4 linked regions of the Homo sapiens genome follow. The protein of the gene in region 4 interacts with the protein of the main gene of each other region in a pairwise test. Each region holds a gene or a part of one and is shown on either strand. Other genes may lie near its edges. The genes, in order: ARMCX1, PTS, POLR3C and COIL.

The links.
Region 1: the proteins of COIL (region 4) and ARMCX1 interact in binary tests that used the Homo sapiens proteins (3 or more experiments, as listed by UniProt).
Region 2: the proteins of COIL (region 4) and PTS interact in binary tests that used the Homo sapiens proteins (3 or more experiments, as listed by UniProt).
Region 3: the proteins of COIL (region 4) and POLR3C interact in binary tests that used the Homo sapiens proteins (3 or more experiments, as listed by UniProt).

Annotation. Positions count from the first base shown.
Region 1 is NC_000023.11:101,545,628-101,553,570, forward strand, and holds the start of ARMCX1 (armadillo repeat-containing X-linked protein 1), read left to right. Parts: upstream 1-4,919; 5' UTR 4,920-5,033; intron 5,034-5,343; 5' UTR 5,344-5,397; intron 5,398-5,941; 5' UTR 5,942-6,006; intron 6,007-7,181; 5' UTR 7,182-7,303; coding exon 7,304-7,943. UniProt on the Homo sapiens protein: Regulates mitochondrial transport during axon regeneration. Increases the proportion of motile mitochondria by recruiting stationary mitochondria into the motile pool. Enhances mitochondria movement and neurite growth in both adult axons and embryonic neurons.
Region 2 is NC_000011.10:112,229,405-112,234,490, reverse strand, and holds the end of PTS (6-pyruvoyl tetrahydrobiopterin synthase), read right to left. Parts: intron 4,284-5,086; coding exon 4,261-4,283; intron 3,866-4,260; coding exon 3,809-3,865; intron 1,329-3,808; coding exon 1,258-1,328; intron 1,060-1,257; coding exon 936-1,059; 3' UTR 518-935; downstream 1-517. UniProt on the Homo sapiens protein: Involved in the biosynthesis of tetrahydrobiopterin, an essential cofactor of aromatic amino acid hydroxylases. Catalyzes the transformation of 7,8-dihydroneopterin triphosphate into 6-pyruvoyl tetrahydropterin.
Region 3 is NC_000001.11:145,841,174-145,844,916, reverse strand, and holds the end of POLR3C (DNA-directed RNA polymerase III subunit RPC3), read right to left. Parts: intron 2,579-3,743; coding exon 2,497-2,578; 3' UTR 515-2,496; downstream 1-514. UniProt on the Homo sapiens protein: DNA-dependent RNA polymerase catalyzes the transcription of DNA into RNA using the four ribonucleoside triphosphates as substrates.
Region 4 is NC_000017.11:56,951,033-56,958,072, forward strand, and holds part of COIL (coilin), read right to left. Parts: intron 1,412-7,040; exon of another isoform or gene 1,078-1,411; intron 732-1,077; exon of another isoform or gene 616-731; intron 1-615. UniProt on the Homo sapiens protein: Component of nuclear coiled bodies, also known as Cajal bodies or CBs, which are involved in the modification and assembly of nucleoplasmic snRNPs.

The sequences.
Region 1 (7,943 bases), on a different chromosome or scaffold from region 4:
GAAATGCAAATCAAAACCACAATGAGATACCATCTCACACCAGTTAGAATGGTGATCATTAAAAAGTCAGGAAACAACAGGTGCTGGAGAGGATGTGGAGAAATAGGAACACTTTTACACTGTTGGTGGGACTGTAAACTAGTTCAACCATTGTGGAAGTCAGTGTTGCGATTCCTCAGGGATCTAGAACTAGAAATACCATTTGCCCCAGCCATCCCATTACTGGGTATATACCCAAAGGACTATAAATCATGCTGCTATAAAGACACATGCACACGTATGTTTATTGCAGCATTATTCACAATAGCAAAGACTTGGAACCAATCCAAATGTCCAACAATTATAGACTGGATTAAGAAAATGTGGCACATATATACCATGGAATACTATGCAGCCATAAAAAATGATGAGTTCATGTCCTTTGTGGGGACATGGATGAAATTGGAAATCATCATTCTCAGTAAACTATCGCAAGAACAAAAAACCAAACACCGCATATTCTCACTCATAGGTGGGAATTGAACAATGAGAACACATGGACACAGGAAGGGGAACATCACACTCTGGGGACTGTTGTGGGGTGGGGGGAGGGGGGAGGGATAGTATTGGGAGATATACCTAATGCTAGTTGACGAGTTAGTGGGTGCAGCGCACCAGCATGGCACATGTATACATATGTAACTAACCTGCACAATGTGCACATGTACCTTAAAACTTAAAGTATAATAATAATAAAAAAAGGAGATATACCTAATGTAAATGACGAGTTAATAGGTGCAGCACACCAACATGGCGCATGTATACATATGTAACAAACCTGCACGTTGTGCACATGTACCCTAGAACTTAAAGTATAATAAAAAAAAGAAAAAAAGTTGGTAAATTTTGTACTGTAAATATAAAAAATTCTATATAGAAGTCCAAAAAATTATAAATCGGGAAAATATTTATAACACTTATTGAAGTCAAAAGACTCATTTGCTTAATTTGCAGAAAGTTCTTATGTATTAGTAAGAAACAGATGAACAACTTAGTAAAAAAATGAGGAAAGACAGTACACAGAAAGATAAATACAGATGCTTAACAAACCTCTAAGAAGATGTTTAATCTCACTTATAATTAAATAAATTAATTATTTGGAGCACAACATAGAATGCATATATATATATCTATCTATCGATCGACCTATATATATATATAAATTTAAGAGGTGAAAGTTGGCAGCATGGGTAAAATTTAAAATGAACACCCATTTTGACACAATTATTTTACTTTTAGGAATTTATCTTGAGGAAATAATATCATAGTTGCCAAAATATATATAGACAGAAGTCTTCACTGTGGCATCTTTGTAATAGATAAAGATTAGGAAGAGGCTAAGTATCCATCAGTAAAAGATTGGTTAAATTCTGGTAAATCCACGCTTCAGAATATTAGTGTGTCTGCTAAAAAGATTCACATGATATATCAGGTGAAAAAAATAGTTATGCAGAATAATATGCATAGTATAATCCCAAATTATTTTAGAAAGATATATGTGTACACACACACATAATGTATCTACATATATTTTTTAGTAATATATGTGAAACAACAACAAAACCTGGAAAGAGTCACCTGAAAAATTAACAGTGGTTTTCATAGGATTTATCCTAGGATTGAAGTAGATTGGTTATCACAGTAGTTATCAGAGGGGTGGGGAAGTTGAGATTTTTTATTTTCTGTTCCCCTCTTTTCCTAGTTACCACCTGCTTTTCTTCATCTCAGCTGAAAACTTCACTCTCTCTGCCCCAGCAAGGAAACTTTCCCTGATCCTCAGACTATGCCCCTTTTTTAAAAACGATATTAACAGAGGTTTTTTCCTTTACAGTATTTTTCTCTCTCTCTGTGTGTGTGTGTGTGTGTGTGTGTGTGTGTGTGTGTGTGTGTGTATGCGCTCATTTTATTAAGGTCTTATTTCCACCACGAGAGAAGAGTCTGTGTTGTTTTTGCTCACCAATACATTCCCCATAAGCTCAGCACTTGTGGCCGCTCTCCCTATTTCCTCTCCTTCCCAGTATTATGATATGGACAATTTAATTTTCCTCAGTCTTATATAAAGGGTTATAAAAGTGCACCTTTAGGCATCCCCCAAATCATCCATACACAGATGAAGAAGAACACATGAAAAACAAACAGCAAATGTCAGGTTGCACTAAACAATGAAATACTAAGGACACTCCCATTTTCTTCAAGAATAAGATCTGGAGGCCCTCAATCACCATTATCATTCAAACTAGTTCTGCAGGTTCTGGTCAATGGAATACATGCAGAAAATAAAAGAATAAAGAATATAAATACTGGAAAAGAAGAAATGAAAAATCATCATTTGCAGATATTATGCATGCATACCTGGAAAAACCAAAAGTATCGATGAAAAAACTATTAGAAATAATAAGAATGGTCACTAAAGATAAATATATCATAATTAATTACTTTACCTGAGACAAACAATAACCAGGTAGAATGTGTAATCATAATGGGAATGTCATTCATATAAACAAAACACAAACATAATAAGAAATGAGTATAAAGAAACATCACATTTATTGAAAATCTCAAAAGTTGGCATGGATAGAAAGACTCCATTTTTAAAGATGTAAATTCTCCAATTAAAGTGCAGATTTATTGCAAGTACTGCAGTAAATGTCAATTGTTTTGTTTTGCATATTGTTCAACTTGGAACTTGACACATCCACATACATATACTGTATATTTGCAGGAAGAAAGGTCGATATCATTGAAAGTGCTTGGTGGTAGAATAGGCATTGCAGGGCAGTTTTGCATTCTACTCTACAGATTTCTGCACTTAAAAAAATAAGTATATAACTAGAGACAGAGAAGAGGGGAGAGGAATAGACTTTCTTTTTCTTTTTCTTTTTTTTTTTGAGATGGAGTCTTGCTCTGTTGCCCAGGCTGGAGTGCAATGGCACAATCTCAACTCACTGCAACCTATGCCTCCTGGGTTCAAGCAATTCTCCTTCCTCAGCCTCCCAAGTAGCTGGGACTACAGGTTCGTGCCACCATTCCCGGCTAATTTTTGTATTTTTAATAAAGATGGCGTTTTACCATGCTGGCCAGGCTGGTCTCGAACTCCTGACCTCAAGTGATCTGCCAGCTTCAGCCTCCCACAGTGCTGGGAAGGAGTAGATTTTCTATTGAGGGGATATATAGCTTTTTTTCAGGAAAGTATTAATAGTTCTTAGTTATTTTTTAAAAGTCATACATGCCTGTGAGAATCTGATGAAAGCTATGGCTCCTTTCTCCACGAAAATGAATATACGTATGACCACAATTGCAGGTGGTCCACAAGGTTGTCCGTGTGAGAATGCCTACTCTGGGTTAATCCATGGGGATTGTTCCTTAGGCATACATTTGGCTGAGCGGGCACCAAGGTGGATATGGACTGGCAGGCAGTAACTCTGCAACAAGATTAGGTTCTCTTTTTAAGGAAGCCAGAGGCAAGAAGCCCAGCGGGCTGCACCTCTCAGGTCAGGTGGTGGCAGCACACAGTATTAGGAGCAATGCTCACTCAGGCACCATGAATAAGGGCAGAGGGGTAGGTAGGAACAGAAAGCCCTTCGATGCATTGCTGTTACCTCTGTGGGAATTTGGGGAAGGAAGGGAAGGAGCCAAAGGTATTTACTCTGATTGGTCACCTGAGTAAACGTGGCATTTACCACCTTGGTCACTCATCTATATATATTTTTGGAGTGAACAATAGATGGGTGCCTGAATACAGGGGATGAGAGGCTATGGAATGTGGAAGGGTGGGAGGGCAGCACCTTCTTCCGCTCTTGACAGGGCAGGAAGGATTAGAACATCGCTGCATCCCTCACACCCTCAGGTGCCTCAGCCTTGGTAGACTGGAATTCAATTCAGAGGCAGGTGATCAGAGTAGCCATCAAATCACAAGAGGTTCATATAACAGTCGGTCAAGACTTTGGGACGTTAAATACATGCTTTTCTTTAATTTAATAAGACAGGGTTGTGTTGCTTTAACTTATCAAATTGCAAGTTGATTCAAAAATAGAAAAAGTAAGGAATTATTTGTGTAAAATGGCCAAGATTAGACAACTGGTCGTCTCTTTGTGGAGTAATTCATAGATCATGTAAAAAAAATCCATTTTTTTTAAGAGATAGAGGCTTGCTCTCTGTCACCCAGGCTGGAGTGCAGTGGTGACATCATAGCTCACTGCAGCCTTAAACTCCTGGGCTCCAGCAATCCACCCACCTCAGCCCACTTTTCAATTTTAAAATGAGTTATTTTGTTTTAAAAGCTACTAATTGGCTGTAACCAGTAGAAATATTTTCCTACTGTTACAAATAAAATAACGAAATTAATGAGGCCTTTTGGGTTTTCTCTCCCGTTTAAACTCTCCACTCAAAGGAAAATAGCATCATTTTATTTTCTCAATATAAAAGTAATGCGTTACTGATTTAAAAACAAATGAGCAGAAAAGTTTAAATAAGACACTCCCACGATCTATCTCCTTTTCTAACATCTTGCTCCACATTTTACAGGGGTGCAGAAGAAATAGGACATTCATGACTTGTGATGGGGGGAGGTATAGAGAGAGACAGTTGGACTGGGACTAGAGAAGATAAAAAATTATTCCTCGAAGAGGAAGAAAAGGCCAACGGACACGGGAGCAGATACAGCCTCTCCCTGTAAACCAAAGAAAGGCAAATTCACCACAAAGAGAAGCTACTTCTAGTCTCCGGGGTTGGCAAAGAGGAAAATGAGTGACAGGACCTGATGTGTCAGGGAAGGAAGGGGAGGGCCGGCTTCTGCGGCGCTGCTGATGGGAGTGGTAATTGGGGTCCTGATCTCATGGTTGACGTGGCCCTCACGTGAGCTGGAGCCGACGCGTGCAGACGTCCTTCTAATCCTAGTCTTCGTTTGGTCCGGTTGCACTCTTCCTATAGCCCAGAGGGCGAGAGGGCCTGTGGCCTGGGGGAAGGAGGACGAGGTTCTGCCTGGATCCCAGCAGGTTTGTGTGTGGATGGGCGTTGCCAGGGGATCCCTGCGGCGCGGGCAGTGAACCGTGGAGGCCGAAGGGGGAGCACAGTTCACTTTCTCCAAACCCTTGCAGTATCCCTTGCCCTTTCTAGAACAAAAATGGTAGACCTTGGGGCCGGATTCCAGGGGCGACCCCAGACTCGGGCGTCGTGGGACCTTTAACATCCAGGGCCTTGAATCAGGGAGGGCGGATATTCGGATTCATGTCCTGTGTGCTGGCCCATCTACCAAGCCAGAATCTTGGGGCTGTGCGTCTGACAGTCATACCCCTTTTCTTTCAGTAGGACGCTGTGCCATTTGGGAACAAAGGAATAGTCTGCCTGGAATCCCTGCAGGTCAGTGTAAAGCTGGAGCTGTCCCGCGGCGCCCAGAAGGACTGGGATGACTGAGGTCCTTGCCTTAACTTGGGCCCTTTACCGACTCTCAAGCAATCTTCCTGCCATTTTTTTTTTCTTCAGTAAAAGAGGATGTAACAGTGGCTGCAGGAAAAGTGCTTGTGATTGCGGGTAGGGTGCGTTGGGGAGAGGAATAGAAGAGATCGGTTGGTTTTGTTTTTCTCCTCGGATTTTCCATATCCCCCCTCGCCCCGCCCCGCTTCCAGTGGTTTGAAAGGGGTGTGGTTTTGCTGGGAAAATGGCCGACCGCTGGGGCTGCGGGAGGGAGTGAGGGCCGGGGGCGGGGACGGGGGTAGGGGAACACTACCAAGCGACAGGGCTGGTGTCAGCGGAGTCCAGAGAAGTGAGGGTAGGGTGAGAAACAAAAAGGTAAAATCCATTGACAGCCAGGACCCTGAATTAGGAGAAGTGGATATTGGGACTCCCCGAAGTGCTTTTCTGTCCGCTGAGCCTTCAGTTTCTGCCTTGTTGCCTGTGTCTGCAGATCTTGGGGCCGGAGGCCAGTCCAACCCTTGGAGCAGGAAGAAACGCAAAGTTGTCAAGAACCAAGTAGGTCATAATAAGGGTGATGGCATTATTTGGGGGTGGAGCATGGTGGCGACTGCAACTCGAATGGGCCCGTGGACCCCTTCCATATCCCCCTCCTTCCCTCTTATCTACACCATTTCGGAGCTTGCAAAAGAAATTGTTCTGCAAGTACAAGACAGGGAAGAAAATAGCTGAGAAGGGGTGGGCGTCAAGAGAGTCCAGGGGTTGGGAGGACGTTACTCCAAATTACTGTTTGGGGTACAGGGTCCTTGGTGTTGGTCCGTCGACCAAGCACTCACTTCTGAAGTTTGTCAGTCTTGAAGGTTTAGTGGAAGCGGAAACCGAGGTGAGGGAGGTAAGAAATTGCTCCGGAGCAGAGGTAGTTGGTATAATGACACGGGGTGGGGGGGGGGGGCGGCGGTGTCCTGGTACATTTGAGATGGAGGAGTTGGCGGAGGCAAGGGCGGAGTTGGAGACCTTTAGGCATTTCACGCCAGTACGGCTTTTAGATATTCTCACTTCATTTTGTTACAAGGAAAATGTTAACGATGAAAATGTGTGGCGACATCTTCGGAGGATGCCAATGATGGGAGTAGGGGTGGAGGTGGAATGGAGGGTTAGAGGAATCATCGAAGGAGGAAGAGGGAGGGAGATAATGAATTCCAAAGCCGCAGCTCTGTGAGGAGAGGAGGGTAACCGAAGGCGGGAAACATTGGGCAAGGCAGTTGTAAAGGGCTAGGAATTCAGAAGAGGGATGTGTGCCCCGTCCCGGGTGAGATCTATATGTACCCAGAGCTCTCAGTACCCCTCTCCCCGCGCCCTTGGTCTGCAGGTTTGCACGAAGCAGTGCACTTGGAAGCAAGAAAGAGAAGGAAAAAAAACTGCCTGGACCTCTGTGGGTGCATGTGAGGGCGCCACTGTTCACAGGACATCTGGAAGGGCAGGGGTGGCAGGGAACTTTAACGTTCTAGGGTGGGGTGGTGGAACGTGAGGTTGGAGAGTCTTTAAGCGGGGAAAATTTCCAAACTTAGCTTCCGGGTGGAAGAAAGGAATCAGTGATCTAGATATCAAGCCCCGAGTCTCTGCCAGTATCTCTGTATTTTTGTACGTTTGTTTGTTTTGTTGTTGTTTCAGTCTGTTTGCGTTCAAAGACACAAAAAGGAGCCTGAAATCTGAAATGCATCCTTTATTCCTAGGTCGAGCTGCCTCAGAGCCGGCCCGCAGTAGCTGCAGACTCCGCCCGCGACGTGTGCGCGCTTCTCTGGGCCAGAGCGAGCCTGTTTTGTGCTCGGGTTAAGAGATTTGTCCCAGCTATACCATGGGCCGCACTCGGGAAGCTGGCTGCGTGGCCGCTGGTGTGGTTATCGGGGCTGGTGCCTGCTACTGTGTATACAGACTGGCTTGGGGAAGAGACGAGAACGAGAAAATCTGGGACGAAGACGAGGAGTCTACGGACACCTCAGAGATTGGGGTTGAGACTGTGAAAGGAGCTAAAACTAACGCTGGGGCAGGGTCTGGGGCCAAACTTCAGGGTGATTCAGAGGTCAAGCCTGAGGTGAGTTTGGGACTCGAGGATTGTCCGGGTGTAAAAGAGAAGGCCCATTCAGGATCCCACAGCGGAGGTGGCCTAGAGGCCAAGGCCAAGGCCCTTTTCAACACGCTGAAGGAACAGGCAAGTGCAAAGGCAGGCAAAGGGGCTAGGGTGGGTACCATCTCTGGGAACAGGACCCTTGCACCGAGTTTACCCTGCCCAGGAGGCAGGGGTGGAGGCTGCCACCCCACCAGGAGTGGATCTAGGGCCGGGGGCAGGGCAAGTGGAAAATCCAAGGGAAAGGCCCGAAGTAAGAGCACCAGGGCTCCAGCTACAACATGGCCTGTCCGGAGAGGCAAGTTCAACTTTCCTTATAAAATTGATGATATTCTGAGTGCTCCCGACCTCCAAAAGGTCCTCAACATCC
Region 2 (5,086 bases), on a different chromosome or scaffold from region 4:
AGCAAATACTTTCTTGTGGATTTAGTCACGAGGAAAAGATCCCAGAGAAGAATGCCAAGCATATAGTAAGTTTAATAATCAGAACAAAATGGGATCAATTAGGAAAAACTATATACAGGAAATATTTTATATGGTAGTTGATCCTTTTTATGCTGACTATTTTTTAGAGTTTAAAATATGATTATTCTGCAGTCTTCTGAGTTGAAATTATTCAAGTGCCCATCAGGTTCAGAAATTCAGAGGAGTATACTGAATAATTTACTGATATTCCATGATATGTTTAATGTGTTGTTCCTCACTAGCAATTCATAGTTCAATACGCTGTGCAAAATTGTAATGAATGATGTGCTCTAAAGCAGCATTTCCATCAATATTTGTACGTGTATCCACAACAGATGCCTCACATGATTTGTGTGTCTAATTTTCACTGAATCCACTTATGCCTTCAGCACACCCAACAAGTAGTAATCAAGAGAGTTCAATCTATTAAATATACATATATATATTGTCTCCAGACTTTGTGGTCACTTGAATTTTATTTCTTTAAGATTCACCTACTCGAAGTCACATAAGCATTTTAACCATGTATATTATACCAAGTAAAAATTAATACTAAAATGAGGTAATGGAGAAAACAAAATTAGATTTCTTTTGCTTTCAAATAATCCCACACCAAAACATTTTGTGAAAATGAAGTGATTTTTAATTTATAAATAAAAGACTCTCTAAATGATTTTCAGGATGTATATTACAAGTTTAGTTTTAAATAGACTTAAATTTATAACAGGTCTTACAATGATTTCAATAAATAGGCACTCCAGAGCACAATGTGTACGTACAACAATCACGTGTTGACCTCTTAATATTCCAAGGGGATCAAAATCTTTTTCAAACACAGAAAGAAACTGGGCTTTGTGCAATGCTAACCCCAATAGCTATTCTCCTTTATAAACCACAATATTATTGTCAGTTTCGTATACTTTTACTTTATAAAGAACTCCTACAGGAAGAACTTTCTGGAGGTTGTCCCAGATATAAACAGCTACATTTTCAGTCGTGCTATAAGAAAAAAAAACAAAAACAAAAAAAATTCAAAATGCAAACAATAAAATTTCATGTTTAATATTTACAGAAAATAGAAATTCTAGTTTCGAAAGATTTCATTAAATTAAAACTTCAGAAATCACACAACAATCAAAGTATTCAAATCAATTCTTGTTTTACAATCCACATAAGGCAAGATACAGTGCCACCCACCTCACCACATCTGCAAAGTATGGCACATCCATATCCAGATTCTTATGATCAAGGGGCTGCATAATCGCCTCCTAGAGACAAAACCAAGGGAAAATATCATTGACTCCATTTACGACTCAAATTCCAAATTGTTCCACTTATGCCTCTAAACCTCACCTTATCACTTAGCCACTAACTAAATATTTGTAAGTACTAGATTTGAGTCTTACAAGGCAACTTTACAAAATTTCAAGTTGTAAAATAAAGTCAGGCCCAGCTGTCGGTAATGATTAGGAATCCTTGTTACTGAATAAAAAGAGGTGAGAAACCAAAAAGCAGAGAATTCCTGGAGCTTTCTCGCAACACAAGCCATTGTAATTCAGAATTCAGTTTAACACTTTGTGAATCCTGTCCAAACAGTTAGCACAAATATTTTTCCATAACACTGTCACACCTACGGAACAATGCCACAATATCATAAGGACAAAGATCCAGTGACTACTACATTTTATAAAGCAGACCTAGACTGAAATTATGTAAGTAGTTCTAAATTTTTGCTATGAGGAATAATTTAAGAATGATCTTGGGCTCATAGAAGGAAAAATATATATATGTAAAGACTATTACTCCCTAATGCTCGTGTATATTAACATAATGTTTTTCCTCATCATCAGCAAGGATTAAATTGCCTCATTCTTTCTAGGTTTTTGCTTTTAGCTATTGCAAAAAATCTAAGCATCTGTGAAAAAAAAATGTAATTTTCCATAGGACGTAGTTTGAAGAAGGGTACATTAATAACAGTAACAGCAATCATTTCTTGAGAAAAACTAGAATCATACAAAAAGAGTAAGTCCTAGATCAAACAGTTATTGAAATATATCCAATGAAGGGATGTTCCACATGAATAACAAGAAAACGGGCATCCTTGCTTCATCTTCAATCCCAGTTCCAGTCCCAATTTCTCCATTAAAGCCTCTTATGCAGGGCTTTTTGTTTTCTTTTGTTTTGTTTTTAGAGACAGGGTCTCTGTCATCCAGGCTGGAGTGCAAGTGGCATAATCATAGCTCACTGCAGCCTTGAACTCCTGGACTCAAGCAATCCTCCCCCCACGGTAGAGCTCTAACTTTACTCTACATGCCATGATAAGCCACTTTTACTGATGAAAGTGTGTGGTGTCCTTCAGGCATACAAAAGCAGAAAACAGCATAGAGAAGCCCTCCTCCAGTATTTAGTCATATGTTGAGGCCTTTTATGTTGCTGTCTTGTCTCTTTTCTTTCTTTTCTTTTCTTTTCTCTTTTTCTTTTTCTTTCTTTCCCCTCCCCTCTCCTCCCCTGTCCTCCCCTCCCCCTCCTCTTCTCCTGTCTCTGTCTCCCTCTCTCTCTCTCTCCGCCTGCCCCCCAACCCCTGCCCCATAAATGCATGCTGGCCCTATCTGTATAACTTTCCTAAAGTATTTTGAGCATAGTGCTGTTTCTTCATTCACTCATTCTTCTACTCATTTATTAAATCAACAGTTATTTAATAATATTCTTCACCTCCTAGAAAAAGTAATGTATACACTCTGTGGGCTACATCTCATTCATCTTTGTACACTTAGCTCAAAAACTGATGCGAAGTAGAGAAATTTGTTGAATATATGAATAAGTAATGTGAAAGAAGTAATCATTACTAATAACATCATTTTAATCAAGCAAATGTCAAATCTCAGAACAAACCTAAGCTGCAAGTGAAATGACAGCATAATAAAACAGCTGGAAGGAAAGAAATCTACTCCCAGCTTTGCAAATGACTAGCCATATGACCTGGGGCAAGTCAGTTAACTGTTCAGCATCTCTCAATCTTAATCTATGGGTTGAAGAAGTTGGTCTGAATAATCTCCAAAGTCTCTTACAGTGCAAGAATTCTATAATGACACAATCAGTTAAGTTCTTCATTGAACACCTTGTGTGTTATCTCTATGAGGTACTGCTCTGGTGAGTTTATAATAAAGCTAGAATGAACAACACAGTGTGGTGTCTAAATCTATGATCAAAGGTACAAGGAATATTCAGAGAGGGAAGAGAAAGCTCCAAGGAGAAGGCCAGGAGCAGTAGCTCATGCCTGTAATTCCAGCACTTTGGGAGGTCAAGGCAGGAGGTGTCTGAGACCAGCCTGAACAACATAGTGAGACCCCTACCTCTACCAAAAAGAAAAGTTTGCATTGGTTCTGTGCCTATTTAAAAAAAAAAAAAAAAAGAAAGACAGTAAGTCTCAAGGAGAAAGCTATGTCTTAAAAGAAATGGAGAATTTGTTAACTGAAGGAAATCAGGATATTCCAACAAGGAATACAAGGTGAGCATGTTATATTTCCTCCCATCGCTGTAACACAACTGTGACTAATTTCCGTTAAGTCACCAAAACACCTTTAGAGGCCATGCGAGCAGTTCTTCCAACTATTCCCCAACACCCACATCCAGTTCTATTCACAAAGTCATGGAACCTTAGGAGATAACTGGTTGGGGAGGTAGATAGGGGGCCACCAAATATTACAGTTAGGGAATAGCACATAATAAGCACCCAACATGCCATTACCTCCATATATTTTTTGAGATCAGCCAGATTCATAACCATTCCCGTAGCAGGGTCAATCTAAAGAATAAACAAAGGTGAATATTACTGTGATAGGCTCTCCATATTAAACGGCTGGCAAATTATTAAAGGCAGTACAATGTGCAGAGACTGTGCCCACATTTGCACATTTGCCTTCATCCCAGAGATAATCATTGACCTCAGCATGGAAGCACCATGTACTTCAAGCATCCTTTTCATTGTATAGCCCTTCTACCTGTCCACATACAGCATATTAAAGACAACACTTTGGTAGAGGAGAGGCCTGGAATGGCGGCAGCTCACCACACACACATATACAAGGGCCAACAATGAAGCAATACTGACTGGAACAGTTTTCAACACAGAATCCACCACACTGGCTGAAAGAGAGCCCAGCAATCTGCAAAAACCACACAAATATTTTCTGCACATACCTCTCCATGTACTGTCACCACAACTATGGAAAGAAAACAAAATACAAAAAAAACAGCATGACTTTCAACAGATCAACATCCAAGCACAAGTTAGCAACATACAAGCACAAGTTGGCAACATAAATTATTAGATCTGTCCCCAAAAGCTATACTTAAATATTTACCCCAAAACATCTGTTATTTTAGTTAAGATTTTTTTTTTAGCAACCAAAGCAAGACACAATCGAGACAAAGGAGCTTAGTAGGAATGTTGGCTAAGCAGAGGCACTCGGCCAAGGCTGAAAAGGGTGTAAATTCTGCTTATGTTAATGCACTAGGGAGCATCAAGATGCTGCTCAGTCTCTGCCTGTAGAAGTAGAAAATGTCTTTCAGGTGTCCAGCTACACAGCAAGCTGGTCCAATACTGAGCAGTACCTTTCTGAACAAGCAATACTACTGGGCCTTAAATTCTTGTCCCCTTACTCACATGAATGTATACAAAGTCTAAAGTAATGCTTTGTAAATTAAAAAGTGCTTGTGAGAAGCATTTGAAAAATCTTGGCCAGGCGTGGTGGCTCAAGCCTGTAATCCCAGCACTTCGGGAGGCCGAGGCGGGCAGATCACCTGAGGTCTGGAGTTTGAGAGCAGCCTGGCCAACATGGTGAAACCCCATCTCTACTAAAAATACAAAAATTAGCCAGGCATAGTGGCGGGCGCCTGTAATCTCAGCTACTCGGGAGGCTGAGGCTGGAGAATCGCTCGAACCTGGGAGGTGGAGGTTGTAGTGACGGGAGATCACACCATTCCAGCCTGGGCAAAAAGAGTGGAACTCCATCTCAAAAAAAAA
Region 3 (3,743 bases), on a different chromosome or scaffold from region 4:
CACCACCACGCGCGGCCTTTTTTTTTTTTTGAGACGGAGTCTCGCTCTGTCACCCAGGCTGGAGTGCAGTGGCGCCATCTCAGCTCACTGCAACCTCCACCTCCCTGGTTCAAGCGCTTCTCCCGTCTCAGCCTCCTGAGTAGCTGTGATTACAGATGTGCACTACCCACACCTGGCTAATTTTTAAATTTTTTTGTAACGATGAAATCTCACTGTTGCCCAGGCTGTTCTTGAACTCCTGGCTTCAACTGATCCTCCCAGTGTGTTGGGATTACAGGATTTAGGCACCATCAAAATTATCTTCTAGCTGTTTTGAAATGTACAGTAAATTAATAACTATGCCACCCTGATCTATCCAACACCAGTCTTACTTCTTCAAACTGTATTATCTGTGCCCACTAATCAACCTCTCTTCATCCTCCCCATCCTTCCTAGCCTCTGGTAACTACCAATCTATTCTTTATTTTCTTGAGATCCACTTTTTTAGCTCCTATGTGAGACAGAACATGCAATATTTGTTTCTGTGCTTGGTTTATTTTACTTAACATAATGACCTCCAATTCCATCCATGTTGCTGCCAATGACAGGATTTCATTCATTCTTATGGCTGAATAATACATTTTCTTTAGCCTTTCATCTATTGATGGGCACTTAGGTTGATTCCATGTTTTGGCTATCGTGAATACTGCTGCAATAAACATGGGAGTGCAGGTATCTTTTTGATACATTGATTTCTTTCCTTTTGGAGATATATATATACCCAGTAGTGGAACTGCTGGAGCATAGTTCTGTTTTTAGTTTTTTGAGGAACCTCTGTAGTCTTCCACAGTGGCTGTACCAATTTACATTCCCAACAGTGTACCAGGCAGGGCTCTCCTTTTTCCACATCCTCACTAGCATTCATTCTTTCTTCTTGATAAAAGTAATGAATTGGGGTGAGATGTTATCTCATTGATTTTGATTTCCATTTCTCTGATTAGTGATGTTGAACATTTTTTGATGTATCTGTCGGCCATTTGTGTATCTTCTTTCGAAAACTACCTATTAAGATCTTTTGGCCATTTTTAAGTTGGATTGTTCTTTTTGCTATTGTTTGAGCTCCTTATATATTCTGGTTACGAATCCCTTGTTAAGATAGTTTGCAAATAAAGCATCCTCATCTTTCAAACTATACATTGTCACTCTCTGTGTTCCCTTCCCTGCCTGACCCTTTTCCCTTTCTGGCCTCTCTGTACATAGTGTTTACTCTTCTACTGTAGCACCCCTAATACTTCCTGGTACTTATGTACTTATTTGTCTCCTCCTACTAGACTGTATGCTCAAAATTTATTAATCTTTATATCCCCAAGGCTTACCCCAGTACTTAGCACAAAACAGGTGCTTAGTAAATGATGGTGACTGGCTTGAGGGCAGAGATGGTGTCTTATTTATCTATCCTTGTATGTTGTGTTTAGTATGGTGGCTGGCAATTGTTTGACACTCAAGTGTTTAAACAATTAGAAAACACATTGGTGAGAGAAAACTGAAGATATTATAAAACATCTAACTGCTTTAAATGAATTAAAGCTGCTGGGACAAATTATATCCGTGATACTGAGAGAGAGAATTTAGCGTTGCCAGTTTTAAGGAACCATGGAGAAGAGGAAGGCGCTAATTTACTGTGTGCTTACCATATGCCAGGCATTGAGCTAGCTGTTCTACATACACAGTTTCAGATGTGTTAGAAGCCTGGAGCTGGCAAATGTGGCTTCAGTCCACAGATTCTAGTGTGACTGCTTGGGACAATCCACCTGCTAACCCTGAAAATAATTTTTTCTTCTACTCTGTGATAGTCTTTCACATTCCCTACACTGTGTGTGTTAAAAATTACAGTTCATCAGCCTGGGCAACACAGGGAGGCCCTGTCTCTACAAAAAAATAAATAAATAAATAAAAAATAGCTGGGTATGTGTGGTGCATGCCTGTAGTCCCAGCTACTCCAGAGGCTGAGGTGGAAGGACTGCTTGAGCTCAGGAGGTCAAGGCTGTAGGGAGCTGTGATTGCGCTATTACACCCCAGCCTGAGTGACAGAGTGAGATCCTGTCTCAACAACAACAAATTATCTATCTATCTATCTATCTATCACCTATCTCAACAAAATAAAGAACAGGCATAGACATCTGAAAATAAAATTAACTTCTTAGGAAGTTTCCTATTGCCAGGGATATAGGTAACCATAGGTGTGGGTAACTTCTTTATGGGAACAGATGCATCTGATAGATGATTAACCTTGTTGATTTAAGGTTCTTCCCACTGCCAAGATTTGATGAGGGGAGACTACAGCAATGGATCTAAATATGCCAAATTCTTTCAGGTGTATCCTGGGCTGCAGGGGATAGAGAGGGGGGTTTAGTTGAAGACTCTGCGACTTATCCCACTGCAAATAATGCATCCAGGCACCTCCTTTATTTTGCTTTCCATCCCCCCAGATCTTCTGAGGAAGATGCTTCTTCTGGATCACTGTCTCTTCATGGTGCACTCAATGTAAGACTCCAGCAGGAAGATGGTTTCGTCCACCTGGATCTCACTGGCATCCAACCTGAGTGAAAAGTAAAGGCATTTGCCTAGACTGAATGTTCATTAGCATATTTAAGATTAGAGGTTAGGGTGGGTGTGGCCATGGATAACTGCTTGGTTACCCTTGAGAGTGGATGGAAAGAAAGCAGGAGAACCAGTAGATCATTTTGCTATTTACCGAGCATCTTTATGTGCCAGACACCATGCAAACTGCTAAGAATACAAAATACAGAGCCTCTGTCCTGGGGGAAGGTAGTCTTCATTTGCAATCAGGAAAACGAACGTAAAGGCACAGGTATAAAAGGACCTAGTGTGTTTTAAAATAGCAAGAAACTAAGAGTGTCTGAAGCTTAAAGTGAGTGGTGATTAGGAAGAAATGGAAGCTTCTTCAGCCTGACAAAAGCCATCTAGGAAAAACCCACAGCTAACATCATACTTAATGGTGAAAGACTAAAAGCTTTTCTCCTAAGATCAGAAACAAAACAAAGATGTCTGCTTTTGTACTTCTATTCAACCTTTTACTGGAGGTTCTAGCCAGGGTAATGGGGCAGGAAAAAAAAAAAGTAAAGGCATCTAGATTGAAAAGACAGAAGTAAAACTCTCTCTATTCATGGATGACATAATCCTATTATAAAAAATCTCAAAGAATCTGCAAAAAAACTACTAGAATTAATAAATGAATTTAGTAAAGTTGTGGGATACAAAATCACAACACCAAAGTTGGTTGTTTTTGTATAACACTAGCAATGAACAATCTAAAACTGAAATAAGCGACCACTAAACTAGTATCCAAAAAAATACTTAAGAAATAAATTTAATGAAAGAGGTGCACAAATTGTGCACTGAAATGTGAAGGTCTAGGAAAGAGGTGATGAAGGCCTGCGTGTGGACCAAGATGAAAGGCCAGATTTGAGACACATGACTCAAGTAAAATTAAGCCAGCGCAGTGGCACTTGCCTGTAGTCCCAGCTACTTGGGAGGCTGAGGCAGGAAGACTGTTTGAACCTACGAGTTCAAGGCCAGTCTGGGCAACACAGCCAAAACCCCGTCTCTTAAAAAAAATTTATCAGTACTTGATGAACAAGAGAGTGTATATGGTGATGGAGAAGAAGCTCAGAACATCTTCAGAATTGCTAGTTTACAAAAATAGGTGGATTAAATTCTGTTAAGTGAGCTGGAGGAGACAG
Region 4 (7,040 bases):
ATTTATAAACACATCTCCAGGACATAGTTATATACTGAGATGACTCTACAAAATGTAACTACCATCAGTCAATGAAAAAATGTCACATCACTTAAAGACAAAAGACTCTTTCTGGCAAAATGGCCTATGTAGCATTACTCACAGTCAACTTTCAAATGGCTAGTTTTATTTATTGAATAGCTACTGCATCCTAAACATTTTTAATACGTTTTTCTCTAATCTAAACACCAACACAAAGTAGGTATTTTTAATTTTACAGATCGCAAAATTACAGCTCAGACAAGTTACTTGCCCCAAATCTAGAGCTGATAAGTAGCAGAAACGCAATTCAAACTTCAGTTTGTCTAACTTCAAACTCACAATCTTTCTACAATATGCATGTCACCTACCCTAAAAGGTGATAATGCTGATTATCCATTTTGTTTCAGAATGTGGGCTTCTTTCTTTAATAAGATTTTACTCCTGTTTTAATTTAGGTGAATACTAAACAATTTATGTTCTCTAGGGTAGTGACAGCCATCTGTACAATTCCACAACACTCTGTGAAGCTTAATTTTATGTATCAATTTGTCCGGGCTATTGGACGTCCAGATATCTGGTTAAAATTACGCTGGCTCTTTCCATACCACCACAGTGGTGCACATGAATGTCTTGGCTGATGCTCTCAAGAGCATCAACAAAGCTGAAAAGCAAGGTAAATGCCAGGTTCTTATTAGGCCGAGCTCCAAAGTAACTGTCCGTTTTCTTTTTTTTATTTTTATTTTTCTTTTCTTTTTTTTTTTTTGAGACGGAGTCCCAACTCCGTCACCCAGGCCAAAGTGCACTGGTGCATTTCTCAGTTCACTACAACCTCTCCCTCCCAGGTTCAAGAGATTCTCGTGCCTCAGCCTCCCAAATAGCTGGAATTACAGGCGCCTGCCACTATGCCTCGCTAATTTTTGTATTTTTAGTAGAGATGGGGTTTTGCCATGTTGGCCAGGCTGATCTTGAACTCCTGGCCTCAAGTGCTCAAGTGATCTGCCTACCTTGGCCTCTCAAAGTGCTGAGATTACAGGCATGAGCCATCGCACCCAGCCCCATCGTCCAGTTTCTAACTATAATGATGAAGCATGGTTACACTGGCAAATCTGAAACCACTGATGATCATAGAGCTGGGAAAACTGTTGTGAACCTCACAGGCAGGCTAAACAAGTATGGAATAATCAGCCTCAGATTTGACGTGCAACTCAAAGATCTAGAAAAATGGCAGAATAACCTGCTCCCATCCCACCAGTTTGGTTTCACTGTACTGACAACCTCGGCTGGCATCATAGACCACGAAGAAGCAAGACGAAAACACATAGGAAGAAAAATCCTGGGATTCTTTTTATAACGATGTAATACGTATTTACAAATATATTGCCTCAGTGGAAAAAAAATTATGCTGGGAGTATGTGCAAGGTTGTTTCTGGATGAGATTAACATTTAAATTGCTAGACTGAGTAAAGTACATTGCCGTTTCCAATGTGGGTGGGCCTCATCCAACCCACTGAAGGCCTGAATAGAACAAAAAGACTGAGTAAGGGAGAATTCATTTCTCTGCCTGACTCTTCAAGCTGGGACATCGGTCTTCTCCTGCCTTCAAACTCGAACTTGAACTAGAAATATACCATTGGCTCTCCTTGGTCTATAGCTTACTAAGTGAACTTAGGACTTCTCAATCTCCACAATCCTATGAGCCAATTCCTTACAATAAATCCCATGTCTGTGAGTGAGTATTTGTGTGTGTGTGTGTGTGTGTGTGTCTTACTGGTTATGTTTCTCTGAATAACCCTACTTCATCCAAAATTTCACTATAGGAAAGCAATTTTGTTCCTCCATCAACAGGCAACAGCTAATCCTAGTATGTGCAGTCTGATGATGATGGAAGTCTTGAGACTGTCCTCAATGTTAAGCAAATTGTGAGTACTCAAAAATGCCTGTTGGCCAGGCACAGTGGCTCATGCCTATAATCCCAAAACTCTGGGAGGCTAAGGTGGTAGGGTGGCTTGAGCCCAGGAGTTTAAGACCAGCCTGGGCAACATAGGGAGACCCTGTCTCTACAAAATACAAACATCAGGCTGGGCACGGTGGCTCACGCCTGTAATCCCAGCACTTTGGGAGGTCAAGGTGGGTGGATCACAAGGTCAGGAGATCGAGACCATCCTGGCTAACACAGTGAAACCCCGTCTCTACTAAAAATACAAAAAATTAGCCAGGCGTGGTGGCGGGCGCCTGTAGTCCCAGCTACTCGGGAGGCTGAGGCAGGAGAATGGCGTGAACCTGGGAGGTGGAGCTTGCAGTGAGCCGAGGTCACACCACTGTACTCCAGCCTGGGCAACAGAGCAAGACTCCGTCTCAAAAAAAAAAAAAAAAAAAAATACAAACATTAGGTAAGTATGGTTGGTGCATGCCTGTGGCCCAGCTACCTGAGGTAGGAGGATCACTAGAGCCCAGGAGGTCCAGGCTGCAGTGAGCTGTAATTGCGCCACTGCTGAAAACACACATTATACTTACAAGGCATTTACATTCAGCTATATATTTCATCAAGTTTTTTCAGTGGCCAGGGAAAGATGTAGACAATCATATTTGAAAATAAAGAACAACTGGTGAATGATAGGAGCATATGTGACAAGCATTCTTTAAATTTTTTAAGGCATAGTAATCCTGTGGATTTACCTCAATGCGGTAGTTGAAAAAAATCCTCAATTATTTGTCAGAAAACTAACTATACAGACAAACAAATCAAGATAAAATAAGAGTTACTGATATCAGGAGTAGGAGAAAGAGACAAATAAAATGCTGAGTGACCAGGGATTTTAAATTATAAAAACACATTCCCCTCTGTTCCCAGCTTGGCATCTAATAGCAAGGAAATAATTCTTAATCTGGCAAAAGCCAGTTTGGCATCCTGTGAATCTAAGAACTACCATGGAAGCGCTACAATATCAGATTTTTTTCTTGACATTTCTGATCAATTTGTTTTCACTTGTAGCAATGATCCAAGCTTCAATTCTGAGATGACCAAATAGGACCAAACTTTCTGTCAAATGTTGAAAATGGTTGCAAGTCTCTGTTCAGTCACTGTGGTTTATTAAGGCCCTGGAAAACAGCACATGTAACATCCAGTTGATGAGAACCCCTTCCTTTCCTGGAAGCTGGCAACACCCTCACGCCTTCCAAAACAGCTCTTAGCATCGTCTCATCCATTCTTAAGACCATGCATTGGCCGGGCGCGGTGGCTCATGCCTGTAATAATCTCAGCACTTTGGGAGGCTGAGGTGGGCAGATCACAAGGTCAAGAGATCGAGACCAGCCTGGCCAACATGGTGAAACCCAGTCTCTACTAAAAATACAAAAATTAGCTGGGCATGGTGGCATGCGCCTGTAGTCCCAGCTACTCGGGAAGCTGAGGCAGAAGAATCGCTTGAACCCAGGAGGCAGAGGGTGCAGTAAGCCAAGATCACGCCACCGCACTCCAGCCTGGCGACAGATAGAGACTCTGTCTCCAAAAAATAAAAAAAAAAAGACCATGCATCTACAGCTATTTGGCTTGAAGGTATGACCTGTGATTCCTGCAGCCCCACTACCTACTGTTCCCCAAGAGAATAATTTCAGTTTTTAAAATATTAAGATTATAAACTGGTGTGGTGGCACATGCCTGTAATCCCAGCTACTCAGGAGGCAGAGGGAAGATCACTTGAACCCAGGAGTTCAAAACTAGCCTGGGCAACACAGTGAGCCCTCATCTGGGAAGAAAAAAAAAAAGAAAATATTAAGATTGAGAGGCAAAATACCATCCAGAGAAAAAGAAATGGTTCTCCTGGGTCTGCTTAGTTACCATTCCTGTCAGGTGCACCTTCCCTGGCAATATTCTCTATTTCTTTACCTGGATCACAGACAAAGAATAGAGCTATCCTTTTACAAACAAAAGTGCATGCATTTGTCCTTTCACAAGTAGAAGTGAATTACCTAGGTCACTAGTGACGAAAGAGTTGATTCCAAAAAACAGATCCCCACTTTTCTTTTTTCGAGATGGAATTTTGCTCTGTCGCCCAGGCTGGACTGCAGTGGCATGATCTGGGCTCTCTGCAACCTCCTCCCCTTGGGTTCAAGCGATTCTCCTGCCTCAGCCTCCCAAGTAGCTGGGATTCCAGGTGCCTGCCACCACGCCTGGCTAACTTTTTGTATTTTTAGTAGAGATGGGGTTTTGCCACGTTGGTCAGGCTGGTCTCGAACTGACCTCAGCTGATTCGCCCGCCTCGGCCTCCCAAAAGTGTTAGCATTACAGGCGTGAGCCACCATGCCCAGCTATCCCCACTTTTCATTCTAACTCTTTGCAAGGCAAACTGAGTGGTATTATCAAAATCTAAGTCCACCCTTAAAATCTACAATTTACTGTCTAGGATTCTGTTATGCAGAAACACTGACATGCCCATCTGTCCAACCTGATGCTCCCTACCCATTGCCTGCCAAGGCCAACGTGAATGCCTGGGTTCAAATGCTATTTCTGCCACTGTAATTTTTTTTAAAATCATTACCTCAGCCTTTCTCATCTATAAAAATGGGGATAATGACAATAATTACAGTACTCAGTGACTTATTATGCAGAGAGAGCATGCCTGACTCAGAACAAGTGATATCCAAATGTTAGCTCTAATTTTTATTAGTACAATGAATGTTGTTAGTCCTATCATGGGTAAGTTGGTGAATTTTTAAAAGTTGTACAAGTCTGTACAACTTTTCTGGAAGCTAATTTGACAGTACTTATCAATTTTTATATGTACCTTCTCTTAGACCAATGAGTATTTCTTCTAAGAATAAATCCAACTGAATAATTTTCCAAGTACAAAAAAAATACAAGAATATTCACTAAAGCACTATGTAGCAAACAGAAAAGAATGACATACATCACACACTTTATATACTGAGATAGCCCATGATAGGTAAAAAAGCAAGGTGCAGAACAGTATGTTATGATATTTGTAGTTTAAAAGTATAAGTACATATGGTTGCACATGTATAGAAATCTGGCTCTAAGATATACCCCATACCCCAAACTTAACCAAGGATACTTCTGGAGAGTGAGGTGTGGGAAAAAGTATATGATAAAAGTAGTAGGAAACTTTTTATCTTGGACTATCCAAGGAGCCACTAACTACAGCAATATGAAATGAGAACTCGTCTCTAATATTTTGTTTTGTTTGAGATGCGGTCTTGCTCTGCTGCCCAGTCTGGAGTGGAGTGACACGATCATGGCTCACTGCAGCCTCAACTTCTGAGGCTCAAGTGATCCTCTCACCTAAGCCTCCCAACTAGCTGGGACTACAGGCATCCATCACTGAGCCTAGCTAATTTTTTTTGTTTGTTTTTTGGGGTTTTTTTGGTAGAATAAGGGTCTCCCTGTGTTGCCCAGGCTGCTCACAAACTCCTGGACTCAAGTGATCCTCCCACCTCGGCCTCCCAAAGTGTTGGTATCACAGGCATAAGCCAACATGCCTGGCCCATCTCTAACATTTAATCAATGTGTTTTTTTGTTCGTTTGTTTGTTTGTTTTTTGAGGTAGGGTCTCACTCTGTCGCCCAGGCTGCAGCGCAGTGGCACCATCTCAACTCACCGAAGCCTTTACTTCCCAGGCTTAAATGATCCTCCCACCTCAGCCCCTCAAGCAGCTGGGACTACAGGCATGTGCCACCATGCCCAGCTAATTTTGTTGTATTTTTCTGTAGACATGGGGTTTCACCATGTTGTCGAGGCTGGTCTCGAACTCCTGAGCTCAGGCAATCTGCCTGCCTCAGCCTCCCAAAGTGCTGGATTATAGGCATGAGACATGGCGCCCAGCCTTCATCAAGTATTAATTGCCAGAGTTAAAAGGGTCAGGGAAGACAGAATGCACTGTTTCCTTACAGAATTGATTCTTCAAAAGGGAGTTTCTCAGGCCGGGGGCAGTGGCTCAGGCTTGTAGTCCCAACACTTTGGGAGGCCAAGGCGGGAGGACTACTTGAGCCCAGGAGTTTGAGACCAGCCTGGGCAACTTAGTGAGACCTCTCTACTAAAAATAAAAAACTGCACCTGTAGTCCCAGCTACTCAAAAGGCTGAGGCAGGAGGAGCCCTTGAGCTCAGGAGTTCGAGGCTGTATAAGCCAAGGTTGCGCCACTGCACTCCAGCCTGGGCAATGGAGTGAGACCCTGTCTCAAAAAATAAGGGAGTCTCTCTGAATCTACTGTAATTCTGAGGGCTGCACGATTAAAAAAAATTTAAAAATTAATTAAAAAAAATTAAAAACCGCCAGACACAGTTGCTCACTCCTGTAATCCCAGCACTTTGGGAAGCTGAGGAGGGCAAATCACTTGAGGTCACAAGTTCGAGACCAGCCTGGCCAACATGGTGAAACCCCATCTCTACTAAAAATACAAAAAAATTAGCCTGGCATGGTGGCGGGTGCCTGTAATCCTAGCTACTCGGGAGGCTGAGGCAGGAGAATCGCTTGAACCTGGGAGGCAGATGTTGCAGTGAGCCAAGATCGTGCCACTGCACTCCAGCCTGGGCAACAGAGTGAGACTCTGTCTCAAGAAAAATAAATAAATTAATTAATTAATTAAAATAAAATAAAAAAACCAAATCTGCCAACACCCTGATCTTGGACTTGTAGTCTCCAGAAGAGTAAGAAATAAATTTCCATTTTTTAAGCCATACAGTCTGTGGTATTTTGTTATAGCAGCCCCAGCAAACTAACACAGGGGGCTCCAAGCCAATAGAAGCACCTCCTCCTCCTCCCAGGACAGTTAGAGACCACCTTTAGGAACTCGCTGTCAGAAACCTGGGGGCAGATGAAGCCAGATTCCTGGGGCTTAAGAGAATGGGCTATGAGGAAACAGCAGTGGAACACAAGTGTGTGGTGCATCCAAAGCCTCAAAGGCTGTTTCTCAGGATTCCCACAACCTAGTTCCACTTTTCCTCATTAGCCTTCTCAGTACTGCCAATGATCCCAACAGAATGCTTTGGCTGGTCAGACTCATCT